2 linked regions of the Homo sapiens genome follow. The protein of the gene in region 1 interacts with the protein of each later gene in a pairwise test. Each region holds a gene or a part of one and is shown on either strand. Other genes may lie near its edges.

What was found. Proteins that work in one complex are often made in the same cells at the same time.
Region 2: the proteins of CMTM6 (region 1) and CD160 interact in binary tests that used the Homo sapiens proteins (3 or more experiments, as listed by UniProt).

What each region holds. Positions count from the first base shown.
Region 1 is NC_000003.12:32,492,593-32,500,605, forward strand, and holds part of CMTM6 (CKLF-like MARVEL transmembrane domain-containing protein 6), read right to left. Parts: intron 1-8,013. UniProt on the Homo sapiens protein: Master regulator of recycling and plasma membrane expression of PD-L1/CD274, an immune inhibitory ligand critical for immune tolerance to self and antitumor immunity.
Region 2 is NC_000001.11:145,714,368-145,722,737, reverse strand, and holds the start of CD160 (CD160 antigen precursor), read right to left. Parts: upstream 3,240-8,370; 5' UTR 3,179-3,239; intron 1-3,178.

The DNA of each region.
Region 1 (8,013 bases):
ACATCCAACTGGGAAGCTGATGTAGGAAATCAGGGCAAATAATAGCGACTAGGGAGCAGCAATAGAGAAGAGTGGCAATCACTGAGAGATGCAGCAGAAGCTCTTATCAGACAAGATGCAAAAGCTCATATCAGACAAGATGCATACAAATAATATGGAACACAAGATAACACATGTGTACCTTAAACATTTTAACTTAAAAACGCACATTTATTAACAATCTGCTGAAGTGAGTATTTTCTTTATGGGTCTACTGACGAATTCCACATGTTTTCTGCATTAATCACTTTCATCATCTATGGACTACTACTTCCAGACTGATGTTATCTGAAGTGAAGTGAGATCTTAAACACTTGAGAAACAGAGTTCAGAATCTTTCTAGAGTCAGACTATTTTACCAGCCTTTTACAGTTGCCTTGCTCTTCCTTAATTCCATGGCAGATAAATCTTGTAGTAAGTTATCTTTCAGTCTTTCCAAAGCATTCAATTTAGTTTTAAAGAAACAATTCATTTTAACACTCAGTTTCAGCTTTGTAATATTTAACTGTATGGCCATAAAAGTATAGTTAGCATAAACCAGTATGGGAACAACACAACTCAACTGATGACAGAAGCAAGAGTTCTAGAGTGCTAATGAGATGCCTACTGGCCATGGCAGGCTGTGGGTGACTGGTGTGAGGTCAGGATGCTTGGTATGGTGAGTGGAGAATGTTAACTCTGGTTAAATTGGCAACTCAATTACACGCAAGTGGGTTTTAACTACTTCCAACTGCTGTATATGTGGTACTAACATACTGGTCCTCACTGAAAAAAGAGTCAGGTTTTTTTCTTTTTAAAAGGCAAGGGTGCTAGGGAGAGAAGAAATTCAGTTTTAAATATGCTGTGATTGAGGAGGTCTGTGGAAGAGTTTGGTGAAGATGTAGTTGGAAAGCAAATGAATATAAGGTCTGGAGCTCAAAGGAGAGGTCTAAGATGCAGATAAAGATGTGGGAGCTGGCAGAGTGGGAGGGTGAGATGACTCAAATGAGGAAAGATAGCCTTATGTGGAAATCTGAGGAATCTGAAGATTTACGGGATATGCAGAGGGGAAGAAACCAGCAAAGGACAACTAGCAGCAGCAATCAAAGGGGTAGTAAACAAGAAAAAAGTATTTACACACACATGCACAAACACACAAGTAATCAAGAGTGCTAAATGCTACTTAAAGGTCAAGTAAGAACAACACTGAAACACCTACCTTAGACTGAGCTATAAGAAGGTTGCCAGTGACATTAGCAAGAAAAGTTCCAGGGTAGTCAGGGAGAGAAGCTCGATTACAATACTGTATATTGGGAAGTAAGGGGAGGGTAAGGCAGTGAAGGAGAGACAGCATAGGCAATAAGTGTGGCTGGGAAAGAATGGCCAGATAGGGCAGTAGTGGATGAGGTCAAAGAGAAGGGAATTTCAACATGGGAGAACTGAGCATGTTTAAATACTTAGGCAGAAACCAGTAAGATGGGTGGGTCTAAAGACATAGGTAGAAAAATGGCTCTCTAAAGATAGGATTCAGGGCTCAGGTTTGGGGCTAACTCTTCTCTAGAAATAGAAGGGAAGAGAGTGAAGAAGAGTATTTTGCTTGGGCAGTTTGTGTGGGTTTTGTGGAAGCTGAGGGAATTTCCTGCTGAGGGCCGAAACCATCAAAATGACTGATGACCTAAGTCAGAGGCTAAAGGGAATTCCCTTCTCACTCCAGTCAGGCCAGTAGAAGCAACCAGACAGGTTAATGGCAACAAGATTGCTACCAAAATCAACAGATACATTTCATAGTAATAGTAAATATCTTATCCTACAAAACATTTTCATTAAAAAGGGACAAACAACAGTTCAGCGGTTTCTTTAAAAACTAAGCATATATCTACCATATGACCCAGAAATAGAACTCTTGGGCAACTATCTCAGAGAAATGAAAACTTAACATTTGTACAAAAACCGGTACGTGAATGTTTATAACAATTTTATTCATAGTAGCCCCAAACTAGAAACATTCCAGATGTCCAATGGTTAAAACAAACTGTGGTACATCCATACCATGGAATATTAGCAATAAAAAGGAGCAAACTTGATATATGTAATGTCCTAGATGAATCTCCAGAGAATTATTCAAAGGAAAAAAAAAATCCAATCTCAAAAGGTTACATATTGCATGATTCCATTCATAGCCCATTCTTAGAATAATAAAAATAATAATGATGGCTAACAAATTAGTGGCAGCCAAGAGAAAGGGGAAAGGTGTGGCTACAAAGGGGTAGCACAGGGAAGCCTCTGCTGATGGCACAGTTCTGTGTCTTGATTGTGGTGGTAATTATAGAAAGCTATCCACATGGTAAAATTACATAGAATTACACACACATGCACATACAAATGTGGGACCTCCCTGTACTTTTTTTTTTTGCAATTCCTGTGAATCTATAATAATTTCAAAATAAAAAGTTAAAAAATAGTAATTCAAATCTATACTGGTATCCAAACCTTTAAGGGATTTCCTCTCCCTTCTACTGGCTATACAAAATGTATACATCCCCACAACTGCAAAGAATTTATATAAAAGAAAAAAAATAGTCTAATTGTAACATGAATGGTTACATTCTCTGATTTCCTGTAAGTTAGTGAAGCATGAAATAGCCCAGCATGTCCCAAACAACTTCCTTCAGACAGGTGTTAGGTAAGGCATTCCCAATCATTACACCACAGGATATAAAGTGACAACACCAAGATAAATCCCAGAGGGCCACTGTGTAAAGATACTTCCTTAGTCTCCTATAATCATACTTACAGGATGAGTTCTAACATGACTATAGTCTAATAAAATACTAAATATCTAACATTTCACTTGCCTTTTTCTTGCCTCTATGTTAAATCTTGTCCAAGTTTTAAAAGTTTCTCTCTGAGAAATTTACAAAATATACCTCGGTTGTATAAAAGTCAATTAACTGAGAGAAGATACCAGCCTAAAACTCTAATTAGGGTCTGGGAATAGCTGAACCACTCATTTTACAATTAGACTATTAGGCACACTCATGTGTGAAGGCTATATGGCAATAAAAGGTTATCTGTAGGACAGACATAGGCTGCTTGTCTACTTTCAGTAAAAAAAGACAGGATCCAGCTTGTCCAGAAGCAGTCAGTCTCAAGTCATTACAAGTCCTATTCCAAACGTATTAACAGGTGGCATTCCTACTGACCTTACTGACCTATTGCCTCAGAGCAATAGCAGGAAGCAGGTTCTGCCTGGACATCTTAAGAGAATCAAGGAGTACAATATTAAGTATGGACATCTGGCAGGGCACAGTGGCTCACACCTGTAATCCCAGCACTCTGGGAGGCCAAGGCGGGCAGATCACTTGAGGCCTTCTGGCCAACCTGGTTCAAGACCAGCCTGGCCAACATGGCAAAACCCCATCTCTACTAAAAATAGAAAAATTAGCTGGGCATGGTGGCGCATGCCTGTAATCCCAGCTACTTGGGTGGCTGAAGCATGAGAATTGCTTGAACCCAGGAGGCAGAGGTTCCAGTGAGCCAAGATGGCGCTACTACACTCCAGCCTGGGTGACAAAGCGAGACTATCTCAAAAAAAAAAAAAAAAAAAGTGTGGACATTTACTAGCTCCCATCTCAAGTTAAAGGCCAACAAATTGGCACTACAAGCTATAGTCAATATGAAATTCTGTCGGCCAGATGCGATGGCTCACATCTGTAATCCCAGCACTTTAGGAAGCCAAGGCGGGAGGATTGCTTGGACTCAGGAGTTTGAGACCAGCCTGGGCAACATGGTGAAACCCCATCTCTACCAAAAAAAAAAGAAAAAAAATTCTCTGCCTACCCATCTCTGAGGCTACTAACCTTTGTAAGCTCCCACAGCATTATGCAATTGCTAGCTCAAAGTGTACTTGAACTAGCAACACTCCAACACTGTTCTACGTATAGGAAGATACAAATGATGGAGTAATAAGCTCAATGTACAAGAAACAATAATAACAATATATTTTATACCACATTAACTGAGCATTCATTATATGTAGGTTAGAAAATCTCAAGAAAATGTTCGAAGGAGCCGGAGAAGGATGAGTGGAAAAGCAGGACTCAAACCAGGCAGAGACACAAACAGAACCTGGATAGACAGAGGACATTCTAATTCTAGGTGGAGGATGAAAAAGAACATATTCATAAGGGCAAGAATTTGCATAGTAAATCCAAAAATGATAATAAGGCAACTGACCTAACTGGATGGGGATGAAGAAAAAAATGGTTTAGGAGTTGGGTGTGGTTGTGTGATGATCATGCAAGGGAATATGGATGTTTAGATGAAGGCAGGAGGGAACACCTGTCTGGTTTAGTAGGTTAGAAAACAGGAGGAACAGAGGATTGGGTGGGGCCTAAAGGAATTCTACAGTTCCGAGTGTAGGAGGGAAAAGAGCAACTAACTTCTTATCAGCAAGCCACAGGAAGTGTTTTTAAAAAAAGAAAACTCCTACACCGGGCGCGGTGGCTCACGCCTGTAATCCCAGCACTCTGGGAGGCCGAGGTGGGCGGATCACGAGGTCAGGAGATCAAGACCATCCTGGCTAACATGGTGAAACCCCGTCTCTACTAAAAATACAAAAAAAATTAGCCGGGCGTGGTGGCGGGCGCCTGTAGTCCCAGCTACTCGGGAGGCTGAGGCAGGAGAATGGCGTAAACCCAGGAGGCAGAGCTTTCAGTGAGCCGAGATCGCACCACTGCACTCCAGCCTGGGCAACAGCGAGACTCTGTCTCAAAAAAAAAAAAAAAAAAGAAAGAAAAAACTCCTTAAAAAGCAGCAAGTAAACATACTCCAAACTGTTACTCATACCGTGACACCTGGTAGTGTGAGGGGTGGGAAAGTGGTTTTATTTTAATATTTTTAGTTGATTTTTTTTTTTTTGGTAAGCAGACACTTTCTTGTATTAAAAAGAAAAAAGTGTAAAAGTTGGCCGGGCGCGGTGGCTCACGCCTGTAATCCCAGCACTTTGGGAGGCCAAGGCGGGTGGATCACGAGGTCAGGAATTTGAGACCAGCCTGGCCAACATAATGAAACCCCGTCTCTATCAAAAATACAAAAATTAGCCGGGCATGGTGGTGCACGCCTGTAGTCCCAGCTACTCAGGAGGCTGAGGCAGGAGAATTGCTTGAACCTGGGAGGCAGAGGTTGCAATGAGCCGAGACTGCACCACTGCACTCCAGCTTGGGTGACAGAGCGAGGCTTCGTCTCAAAAAAAAAAAAAAAAAGTGTAAAAGCTGAAGGAACAATTTCGAGAAATGAGTGGTCACCAGCATTAAATGCCAAAGTGGTCAAAAATAGGAAGAGAGAAAAAATGTCACTGAATTAGCTAAGAAATTCATGGTAAACATAACCCATAAGTAAAAAGGCTCAATTATTATTTTTTGGTAAACAGTTTTGTTCTTAATAGCATGAAGTCATCATACTAAATATTGCTTACTGAATATTAAGCTAAGTACTTAACAACTGTATACCCAATGTAACTCCTTCTAATGACATAAAATTTTACCCAAATATAATTAAGAGAATTATCAAGCTTTTAATGTCAGGAGGGCCCTTAGCGGATATAGTCTCCCACTCCCACGTTTACAAAGATGGAATTAAGCTACTGACAGGTTAAGCCCCAAGTTAGCTCGGCACAGACAAGAACCCAAGTCTCTGACTCCCACTCTGTACTTCCTCTCTCCCCATGAAATACTGTTTGTTAAATTCCTTTTACGAGTATGTATGTTTGTGTAGGTCTTCCCTGTAAGACTGGCTTTTTGAAGTTAAACCCACAGTTCTGTATATTTCCTTTAATGTATTAAATCATACATTAAAAACAATTTGCTAACATCAACAGATTTGGGAAGTCTCAGTGACTAAAACATGATCTTACAGTTCTGGTGATTTAAACACTGGATAATTACTATCCTGCCTCTATCTCTCCATTTCAGTTTCACTACCCCTTCTTTTTTTTTTTTTTTTTTCTGAGATGGAGTCTCGCTCTGTTGCCAGGCTGGAGTGCAGTGGCACGATCTTGGCTCACTGCAATCTCCACCTCCTGCCTCAGCCTCCTGAGTAGCTGGGATTACAGGTGCACGCCACAATACCCAGCTAATTTTTGTATTTTTAGTAGAGACGGGGTTTCACCATGTTGGCCAGGATGGTCTCTATCTCCTGACCTTGTGATCCGCTCACCTCGGCCTCCCAAAGTGCTGGGATTACAGGCATGAGCCACCGCACCCGGCCTCAGTTTCACTACCTTTTCTGAAATTTCAAGTGTTCCTTAAAACGGTCACTATATTAAATACGAATTCTCCATTAATTTAACAGTCTACTACTTATATTTTATAAAAAGAACTTTTAAATGTTTGCCATTAATTATAAAGCTCCATCTACAAAATGATATGAATTATAAATTAATGAACTTTACTATTAAAAACTTTGTAGTTATAAGTAAAGTTCAAATTTAAAAATCCATTGGTCTGAAGAAACAGGCCAGGCCTCCCTTGCCTTAGGCAAATATTTACTCTTACAAAGGTTCAGATATAATTTGCTGACATTACGGGATCTTCCTCAAGGTAAAAATAGAACATTTCAATTTACTATACATCAGTTTTCATATTTAAATAATGAAAAGAGCATCAATATAAGAAATGCTTCCAAGTAATCTGTTTCTTGGTACTTATAGGGTAACATTATTTATAATGTAATATATTGAAAAATCACTGGCGATTTCTAAAACTGCTTGCCAGATGAGCGACTAGAATTCCAGTACTGTGCAGCTATCAGGATAGTCAACTGACAGCATGGATACAATGTGGAGCTTGTTGCACAGAAAATTCCACATATTTAGGTCACTGCACCAGCGTATCAGCAAGCAATTAGGTTACCAAACGTCAATTCTCCCCTTAAAACAAAAACTCCCTCAAAAACATTCACAAAATAAAACATGAACATGTGGACAAATCTAAGGATAGTATAAACTGAAAAACTGCATAAAGTTAGGACTCCAGTAACTCCTTACACTAAATTCTCAACTGAGTATTTCTTCTTAAGCTCTGGAAGGGTGGATGGTAGTTGGGGGATGCTTAGGGTTTTAACAAAACTTAGGTCATATCTAAATGGCAGACACAGCTATGTTAACTTCAAGAGATAGAGAAGTTACGTTCTTTTATCTCTAATCTCCTCTGTGTACAGGCTCCACTCTCTATCCCTTCAATATTCAATTCAGTTCTGTAATAGCAAACCCCATGGAGCCTCAGAGGTTTGAAAAAAAAAAAAAAACCTTAAGAGTGCAAAGAACCTCAGAGGTAATTCAATTCAACCTCCGAAGACTCTAATGTAAGAATTTCCTAAGTATATACACAATGTCTGGTTTTTAAGTTTTAGAGCAGGCTTTTCTCTTGTAGGATCTTTGAGATTCTGTTAAGATTTATGGGTCCAGAATAATATACTCAAACATATAAGTGTACAATATTTTGAATAAAATTTCACAGGGTTTGCAGGTCCCTTGTTAAAACACCTCCTCTTCTGATTACGGGTTTCTCCATTACAGTTGTTTCCTTACTGGAGCTCGCAATTCTGTTTAGTTTTTTAAAAAAATTAAACATTTAAAGTAAAACAACCAATCTATCTAAAGGAAGAATTTGAGTTAAGGCAAAGACCTTGCCTATAGCCCCAGGCTGGAAGACAACTTTTACCGACTTCATATGTAACCTTCTTGGGACTTGCTGGATAATTCCTGTAATATACTGTTACTGTGAAGAGATAAGACATTATCAAAACAAACAAAGGAACAAAAAGACAACCATCAAAGTGAAAGGCAGTAATGAAAAAGTACTTTTAAATCTCCACATTAAAGAAAGCATTCCTGTAACATGACAATTTCCCCATAAACAAATAAATGGATTTCATAAAGAGATATTAGTTTTTATTTTTTCTCCATTTCTTCTTATGAATGATGGAGAACTAATA
Region 2 (8,370 bases), on another chromosome or scaffold:
CGCCTGTAGTCCCAGCTACTCGGGAGGCTGAGGCAGGAGAATGGCGTGAGCCCGAGAGGCGGAGCTTGCAGTGAGCTGAGATCGCGCTACTGCACTCCAGCCTGGGCGACAGAGCAAGATTCTGTCTCGAAAAAACAAAAATAAAAACAAAAAAAACTTAATAGTTGCATGACTCGGTCAAGTTTCTTAGGCTCCTGGGCCAGGCGCTATGCTCAGCCTTTAATAAATAGACATATTTCAGAAACACGGAGCATCTATAATGTGTCAGACACCATGGGGCACAGAGAGATCACTAACACAGCAGAGGCGGACGTTTTAGTGGTTAAATGGTCTCTAGAGTCAGACCAGGATGTTTCAGATCTGGCTTTGAAACTTAACTATCTGTGTAATATTGGGCAAGTTTCTTAATCTCTTAATGACCTATAAAATGGTGACAAAATATTCTCTTCCTTGGGTTGTGAGGGTCAAATGAGGTCACCTATGTAAATTACTTAGCACAGTGCCTGGCAGAGAGTAAGGGCTCAATAAATGATAGCTATGATTAGTTTTATGCTTTCTTATATTGGAATCAATGGACAGTGTTCCAGGCACATCTACCTGCAAGACTGTGTTTAGTCCTTATAAAACACTAAGCCATTATTATTTTCTAAAATTTATTATTTGTACGAAGCATATAGAGGCTTGGAGGGGACTTGTGACTTGCTTAAAATCACAGCTCCTAAGTTGGGGAGCAGGACTCTAACCCAAGTTATGAGAGTCTTTCTCTTGGAGTCCCCTTTGTCCCTCTCCTCACAGCCGCTCATCCATTCACGAACAGCTGTTAACACAAGAACGACTGTACTAAGTAATAAGGTCATAAAGTGTCAAGGGGCAGCACAGGAGAAATTCTGGATGAGGGATGTGGAAAGGCTGCAAGATGGCAATGAAGTTAGGCCTTCATAGTTGTTTGTGGGCTCTCGGGAGCTGGTGACTAAAGAATACGGTGGGTGAATTAAGGTGGGGAATGGGCTGAGGAGATCTGGCTTCCAGTCCTGGCTCCGCACTAGGTAGCTGTGGAATGTTGACAAGGTCGTGTCCCTTCTCTAGGCGTGTTTCCTAAGGGACTGGTGCAGCGGGATGGGAGGGGCGCAGGGTAGGGACCGCTTCCAAGGAGAGAGAGGACAGGCGGGAGGGGCTGATGCAGCTGGTCACTCCGCTGGAGTGGCCAGACTTCGCGGTGCCTAGGGCCGAGTTGAAGAAGAGCATGTAAGTCTGTTGTGGGCCCCTCACCAGCGCTGGGGGGCAGCGAGGTCACTGGGCAAGGATGCTCTGGGAAGTGACCTTGGTGCCCGGGAGGGGAGCACCCTGTTGTGATGCAGGCGGGGCAGCGCGGAGCCGGCGGCGCTGATTTCGCACTCTGGCCGCTAGAGGGCGCTGCCTTTCAGCCAAAGCCGAGTGACCCCCTACCTGCCCCGCGTTGGCCCGCGTCACTCCAGCCATGGGCCATCCAGCGAGCATGGGGGCTAGCCAGGGAAAGTCTAAACTAGGAGGGGAGATGAGGGGGTGCAAAGTTGGGCCTGGTGGGTCCTGGGGACGCAGCATGTACTAGAGCGGCACCTGGCCCTCAACAGAGGGGAGAGCGGGTGGTCGTGAGAAGTCTGGGAATTTTCCGGGCCCACTACACGCCAGGGGCGGGTCTCCCCTCTTAAAACGTTGTGAGCCCCAGCGCGGGCAGGGGGGAGGGTGCCCGTGGAGTTGGCATCCTCATCTTTGATGGTCCCCGGGGCTCCTGAGCTGCGCTGGTGGCCCCAGGGCTCGGTGCCTCTCTCAGGCGACAGCTCACAGACGGCGGGAAACTCTTCCCTCCCGCACCTTCGGAGGCGGTCCTGGAGTCTTGTGGACTCCTGGGTTCAAATCCAAGCTTTGTGTGACCAGCACATTGCTGGACCTCACTCAGCCTCACATTCCTCTTGTGTTTAAAACTACCTCATAGGAATGTGGTGACGGTTAGATGACACATAAAGCTTTGCCAGAGGTTTTCTGGGGAGGGTGGGGACAAGAGGGCAAGGAAGAGTCTCCATTTCCTCTGCCACCGGAGCCCGGATCTAACCTCTCAGAGGAGCTGGAAGGTCAGCTCTGAGCTCCACAAATACCTCTGTATACAGATCTCCCACGACACTGAAAAAGATGCCCAGAAAGATCTCATTTGCAGCTGTGAAGGGGCTTCTTTTTCAATCTCCACAACCCCAACTGCCTTAAAGTAGAACCAGACTTGTTAGTAGACAGAGGTTTGGGCTGGGGGGCCCTTGAAGCTCTTGTCTGAGATCTCAGGCTTCCTGCTCAACACACCAAAGCAGGTGCCTGACATAAAGGCGCCATGGACCTCTTTGGTGGTCTGGGAAGGCATATGGAGTCCCTTCTCAGAACAACATTTAAAAATTAATAAGATACATGGGATAATAAAGGGAACAAATTATGACAAGACAGTTGTCAAAACATTAGAAGAATGTGTGGTAGAGCAGTACACATGCTTCTTTAGATTTGACATCAGCCTAATAACTGTTGTAATTCTGTAGTAGTGCTGAGCGTTAAGGACATTTGGAGAAATCTATAAAAACTGTAATGAGATTTGAAAATATTTGTGTTTTCTATTGATGGCAAATTCTATTGTGGTTCATTGTCTACATTCATAACTGAAGCAAGTGCTGACTTTCAATTAAAGATTAGTGAAAATAAAGATGTATTTTTCCCCCCAATTCACAAATCCCATGAATAAATCTATTCACGGACCTCCAAGAGGTCCATGACGTGAACCACCTAGGACATGAACTTCCCCCGGAGGTGCCTCACAGGGCCAGCTCCAAGCCCCGTGGCACCTCCCGGCTTGTCTCAGGCCAATCCTTGAAGAGCTCCAGCAGATCTAAACTTTGGTAACTTTCCTCTGGTAATTTGAGGAATTCCTCCATTTGAGGAATGTCAGAATGGGGCCAGGATTCCTGAATGCCCATGGAAGAAAAGCGAGCATGCTGGTCTGGCGGGCAGAAATAACCTTCTCCCCAGGCTCCAGAGGGCAGAGGACATTTCCCTCCAAAAGGCAAGTTTCTCAGGGACCTCATGAGAAGCCTGTCCTCACCTGAGCAGTTCTGTCAACCATCCCATCCCTTCACCTGGACCCCAGGTCCCCAGCAGGCCTTTTTACCTCGAGACAGAAGTTCTTCTTTCTTGTTCTCAGACTGGGGGCTCACGTTGAAATGGCTCTCAGTCCTCAGATTGTCCTTGCATCTTGTTAAAACCCTATCTCTCCAGTTTCGTCATTGCTCACACTTTCATAGCTGTTATTATATTCGCTCTTTGAAAACCACAGAATGGGTTGTTAGAAGTCATAGATCTTCCGCCACCCCCACTGTGGATTTTTTTCTCCTTTCTCTCCTGCAACTGGTCCTCCATCTCCTTCTCCTTTCCTCTCCCTTGTTTTGTCTTTTTGGTGTTAGAAATAGACTAGGGTGCTGAGGGGGCTAAGAAAAACCACTTCTTAAAATTCTTTTCTTTACCCTGGGGAACAAAGATTTTGTATTTGCTAATTCATAATAAGGAAAGGACTGATGATAGAATAACTAGAAGATAAAAGGACAGAATGTCCTCTCAAGTATAAAGAAAGGTACCAAGTCTTCTCCTGAGAGTAGGTTTTGGTTAGAAGTAGGACAGAGAACACAGCTGCTCCAGGCTGAAAGGGAAGAAGGTCAGGGAGCTGTCAAGAAGGCTTGGGTGAGGGTGGTGGTGAGCAGGGGAGGCAACGAGTGGGGGCACCAAAATGGTCCTGATGTGGTGGGGGGAGGATGAATGACTGACCTTATCTTCCCACCCACCCATTTTTTTTCTTTTTCTTTTTTCTTTCTTTCCTTTTTTTTTTTTTTTTTTTGAGACAGGGTCTTGCTCTGTCACCAAGGCTGGAGTGCAGTGGGGCAATCATGGCTCACTGCAACCTTGACCTCCTGGGGTCGAGTGATCTTCCCACCTCAGCCCCTCAAGCAGCTAGGACCACAGGTGTACGCCACCACACCTGGATAACTTTTTATTTATTTATTATTTATTTATTTATTTATTTATTTATTTATTTATTTATTTAGAGATGGAGTTTCGCTGTGTCACACAGGCTGGAGTACAGTGGCGTGATCTCAGCTCACTGTAACCTCTGCCTCCTGGGCTCAAGTGATGCTCCTGCCTCAACCTTCTGAGTAGCTGGGATTACGAGAGCCTGCCACCATGCTGGACTAATTCTTGTATTTTTAGTAGAGACAGTTTCATCATGTTGGCCAGGCTGGTCTCAAACTCCTGACCTCAAGTGATCTGCCTGCCTTGGCCTCCCAAAGTGCTGGGATTACAGGCGTGAGCCACCACGCTCGGTTGATAATTTTAAAAATGATTTGTATGGATGAGGTCTCCCTATGCTGCCCCGCCTGCTCTTGAACTCCTGGGCTCAAACAATCCTCTGGCCTTGGCCTCCCAAAGTGCTGGGATTACAGGCCTGAACCACCACTCCCAGCTTCCCATCCATTTCTATTCTGTTCTGTTCTTCCTTGGTCAGTGATGGCTTGGGAGATTACAATTGTTCCTAAATTCTAGGGTTGTGCCCTTAGATGGCAGGAACATTAGTCTGAGAATTAGAAGCATTGGGCTCTAAGTCCTGCAAGGCTGGGCCAGGCCCTGTGCCAAAGGGCACAGCACACCAGGAAGCCCCACGGTTCTGGAGGAACACCTGTCATGATTGCCACCCAGTGCCAGGCTACCCAGGAATTCAAGGGTGGAGGGAGGGTGGGGGAAAATTTTTCATAACTAGTCTAGAGACTCTCTTTTCCTTCTTATTCCTGTTATTGTAGTACTCTGTGGTCCTAAAAACAGTAGGGTGCTCTGGGGTTTGAGAACTCCCAGATGGCTCCACTGAAGCCATCGTCAAATGAGACAGATATTAGAAATATTTCTTCACTCCAAGCCAGGCGCAGTGGCTCACACCTGTAATCCCAGCACTTTGGGAGGCCGAGGCAGGTGGATCACGAGGTCAGGAGATTGAGACCATCCTGGCTAACACAGTGAAACCTGTCTCTACTAAAAATACAAAAATTAGTTGGGCCTGGTGGTGGGTGCCTGTAGTCCCAGCTACTGGGGAGGCTGAGGCAGGAGAATGGTGTGACCCCCCGGGAGGCGGAGCTTGCAGTGAACCGTGATTGCGCCACTGCACTCCAGCCTGGATGCCAGAGTGAGACTGTGTCTCTAAAAAAAAAAAAAAAAGAAAAAAGAAAAGAAATACTTCTTCACTCCATCAAAGTGTTAGCTTTCACTGCAGAATGAGTCCATTCTGGGAGCCTGGGGGTTGGGAACCCATGTTGGGAAGAGGAGTGTCTCACCATCATCCTGGTCACAGGACCAGTCCACCACAGCCCACAGGATACTGGGTCCCACTGGCATAAACTGCTAAACTGGGCCTGGTCTCTGCTCTCCCAGTATCCTTATTTGCTGTCTCTATGATAGTGTTCAAACAGATGACCTCTCTGCTCTCTAAAATGGAGACTTCTCCCTCCTTGGGTCTATGAGAACCTTTCAAAGGTTGGCTCTGAGAGCACTCAGCATTCCTTATCATCCAGGAGCTGTAAAACAGTGATTATTAGCAACATGAAGAGAAGTTAAAGGCAACCAGAGTTGTGGGTGAGTGAGGTTGGGGCCACTTAAGTACTAGCTGACACACATGTATTCATACTGGTTATTGCAAAAAACCTCAAAGTTCTGCAAAGACCTCAGGGCTCAAAAGTGAATCGCAGCGCGCTTCCTTTTCACCAGCCATGTAGTGTCTGTCCATCCTGCAAACGGTTGCATGCACAGTTTTCTGCAAATGTTGCTTTTGGTCGCTTCTCACAAGGTTATTGTGTGCCAGGCCCTGCGGGGTTGACGATGACTGAATGGGGCCTGCTGTCAAGGCGAGCACACTGCTGAGAGAGGCCTGCATTCCCGTGAGATGAAGCAGAAGCAGAATGCACCAAGAGCTCTAAGTACCCCAGAAGTGAGAGAGAACCCAGGAAGCAGGGGAGGTTGGGAGGAAGAAAAGGAGACTGCCCTGTGGGCGCAGACAGTGTTAGGCACTCTGTGTGGACAATGTGACATTTAAATTGAGCTTTGAAAGAAGGCAGGATTTCAAAAGGCAGGGGTAGAGGAACAGTATGAACCAGCAAGGAGCAGGGACATATGGGGCTGGTTTGGAAGTCAGTGAAGCAATGAGGTGGCTGAAATATAGGCTGCCTCCTGGTCATCCACAGCCTCCCAAATATGTATCCTGTGGGCCTTTCAATGTCTAAGGTGTATGAGTCCAGTTACACAATTTAGCAACTGATAGATTGTTTTCAAGATACTAATAGTAAGTGCTCGACATTAAGACAAAGAAAAACTGAGTGGACATTGAATTGTATTTCCATCTTACTTCTGTAGAATTATGGGGTTTTGGAAGCAGAAGAGACTGCAGCAGTCTTCCAGTCCCTGGAAGTGTGCAGACACTTGCATGCCAGTGTTTCCCAAACTTGAGCGTGTATTAACATCACCAGCAGGGCATCTTTGAACAATTCGGATGGCTGGGCCCAGCTGCAGAGTTTCTAATTCAGGGACTCAGGGCAGGGGTGGGGGTGGTCCAAGAAGTTGTATTCCTAACAAGTTCCCTGGTGCTATTGTTGCTGTAATGCTCCTTGCGAACTGTTCAGGGTAATACCTCTTGCATCCTCTGCTTGAATCTGTCTACTGTTCTGCAGCTCACTACCACCCAAAGTATCCACACAATATCCCTTGTGGAATACTTCCAGTAAAATTCTTCCTTGTGCTGCTGTCAGTCCTGCCTGCCTTTAACTTTCAATGAAGTCTGCTGAGGGCCCCACATGGGAAATGTCTATGGATGGCAGGCAAGTCTCAGGCACATGAGGCAGACTGCCTGGATTTACGTCCTGACTCCACTTACTACGTGACCTTGGATAAGTCATTCAACCTTTCTGTGTTTTCCTCAACTGTGGAATGGGGATAATAATTGCAGTTATATCACAGAACTGCTGTTTAGAGTAAATGAGAAAGTGTGTAAAACAATTGGCATGGTGCTTGGCATATAAAAGTACTCAGGTGTGGGCTAGTATCATTACCTAGTGTTCTTTTTCTTTTTCTTTTTTCTTTTTTTTTTTTTTTTGAGACAGAGTCCCACTCTGTTGCTCAGGCTGGAGTGCAGTGGCACAATCTTGGCTCACTGCAACCTCTGTCTCCTGGGTTCAAGTGATTCTTGTGCCTCAGCCTCCTGAGCAGCTGGGATTGCAGCCACCGCTCCCACGCCCAGCTAATTTTTTGTATTTTTTAGTAGAGAAGGGGTTTCACCATGTTGGTCAGGCTGGTCTCAAACTCCTGACTTTAGGCGATCCACCTGCCTCGGCCTCCCAAAGTGCTGGGATTACAGGCGTGAGCCACCGCGCCTGGCCAGCATTACCTAGTTTTCCTTTCTACTCAGGAGTCTATCAACTCTCTGAAGAAAGTTAATCATTCTAAAGTTTCTCCTTTCTGGGCTAAATATCCCCAGCTCCTGCAATTATTTCTTACAATTATTTTAGTGCTTTCACGGTTCCAATATTTTGTTTGTCCTTTCTCCTCTTCTCTGAACAGAGTCCAGTTTGTCAGTCTCCCTTGTTAGATACATGGCTCAGACCTGCTACCTGCCTCGGCTTAGTCCAAGTCTCGTGTGTTCACTGCAGCCAAAGGTCACTTTAGCTTTGTAGCTATTTCTACATTTCACTGGACTGTGTTAGACTTCCAGGCCACGAAGGTGCCAGAGGCTACACCCGCATGTAAAGAGTAGAGCTCATTCTCCTGTCACATTTCCCCTTGTTGCTTAGCATGTGTGAGTTTGGGGAGTGTGGGTGAGGGAGAGTAACTCTGACCTTGGCCCAGTTCAGGGCCTACTGTGATGGTTGGTGAGCAGCCCCAGTGGCTGTGAGGGAGCACATTTGAGGCTCCAGGGGCTGGTGCGAGGCCCAGCTTCTCCCCTGGAGAAGGGTGAACTGACACCTAGCACAGCCAACAGTTTTCTGGAAGGAAACCAAGCCTCAGAGCCAGAGGCACATACAGCAAAGCTGTGCAGGCATCTCAGCCCCTGTCCCAGCCACTGTCACTGCTGGCCTTTAGCCCAGGGTCGTTGGTAATAGAATAATGATAAAATATGGAGAGGGAGTCAGGGCTGGGTTTTTTTGGTTTTGCTTTTTTTTTTTTTTTTTTTGAGACAGAGTCTCGCTTTGTCACCCAGGCTGGAGTGCAGTGGCACAATCTCAGCTCACTGCAACCTCTGCCTCCCGGGTTCAAGCGATTCTCCTGCCTCTGCCTCCT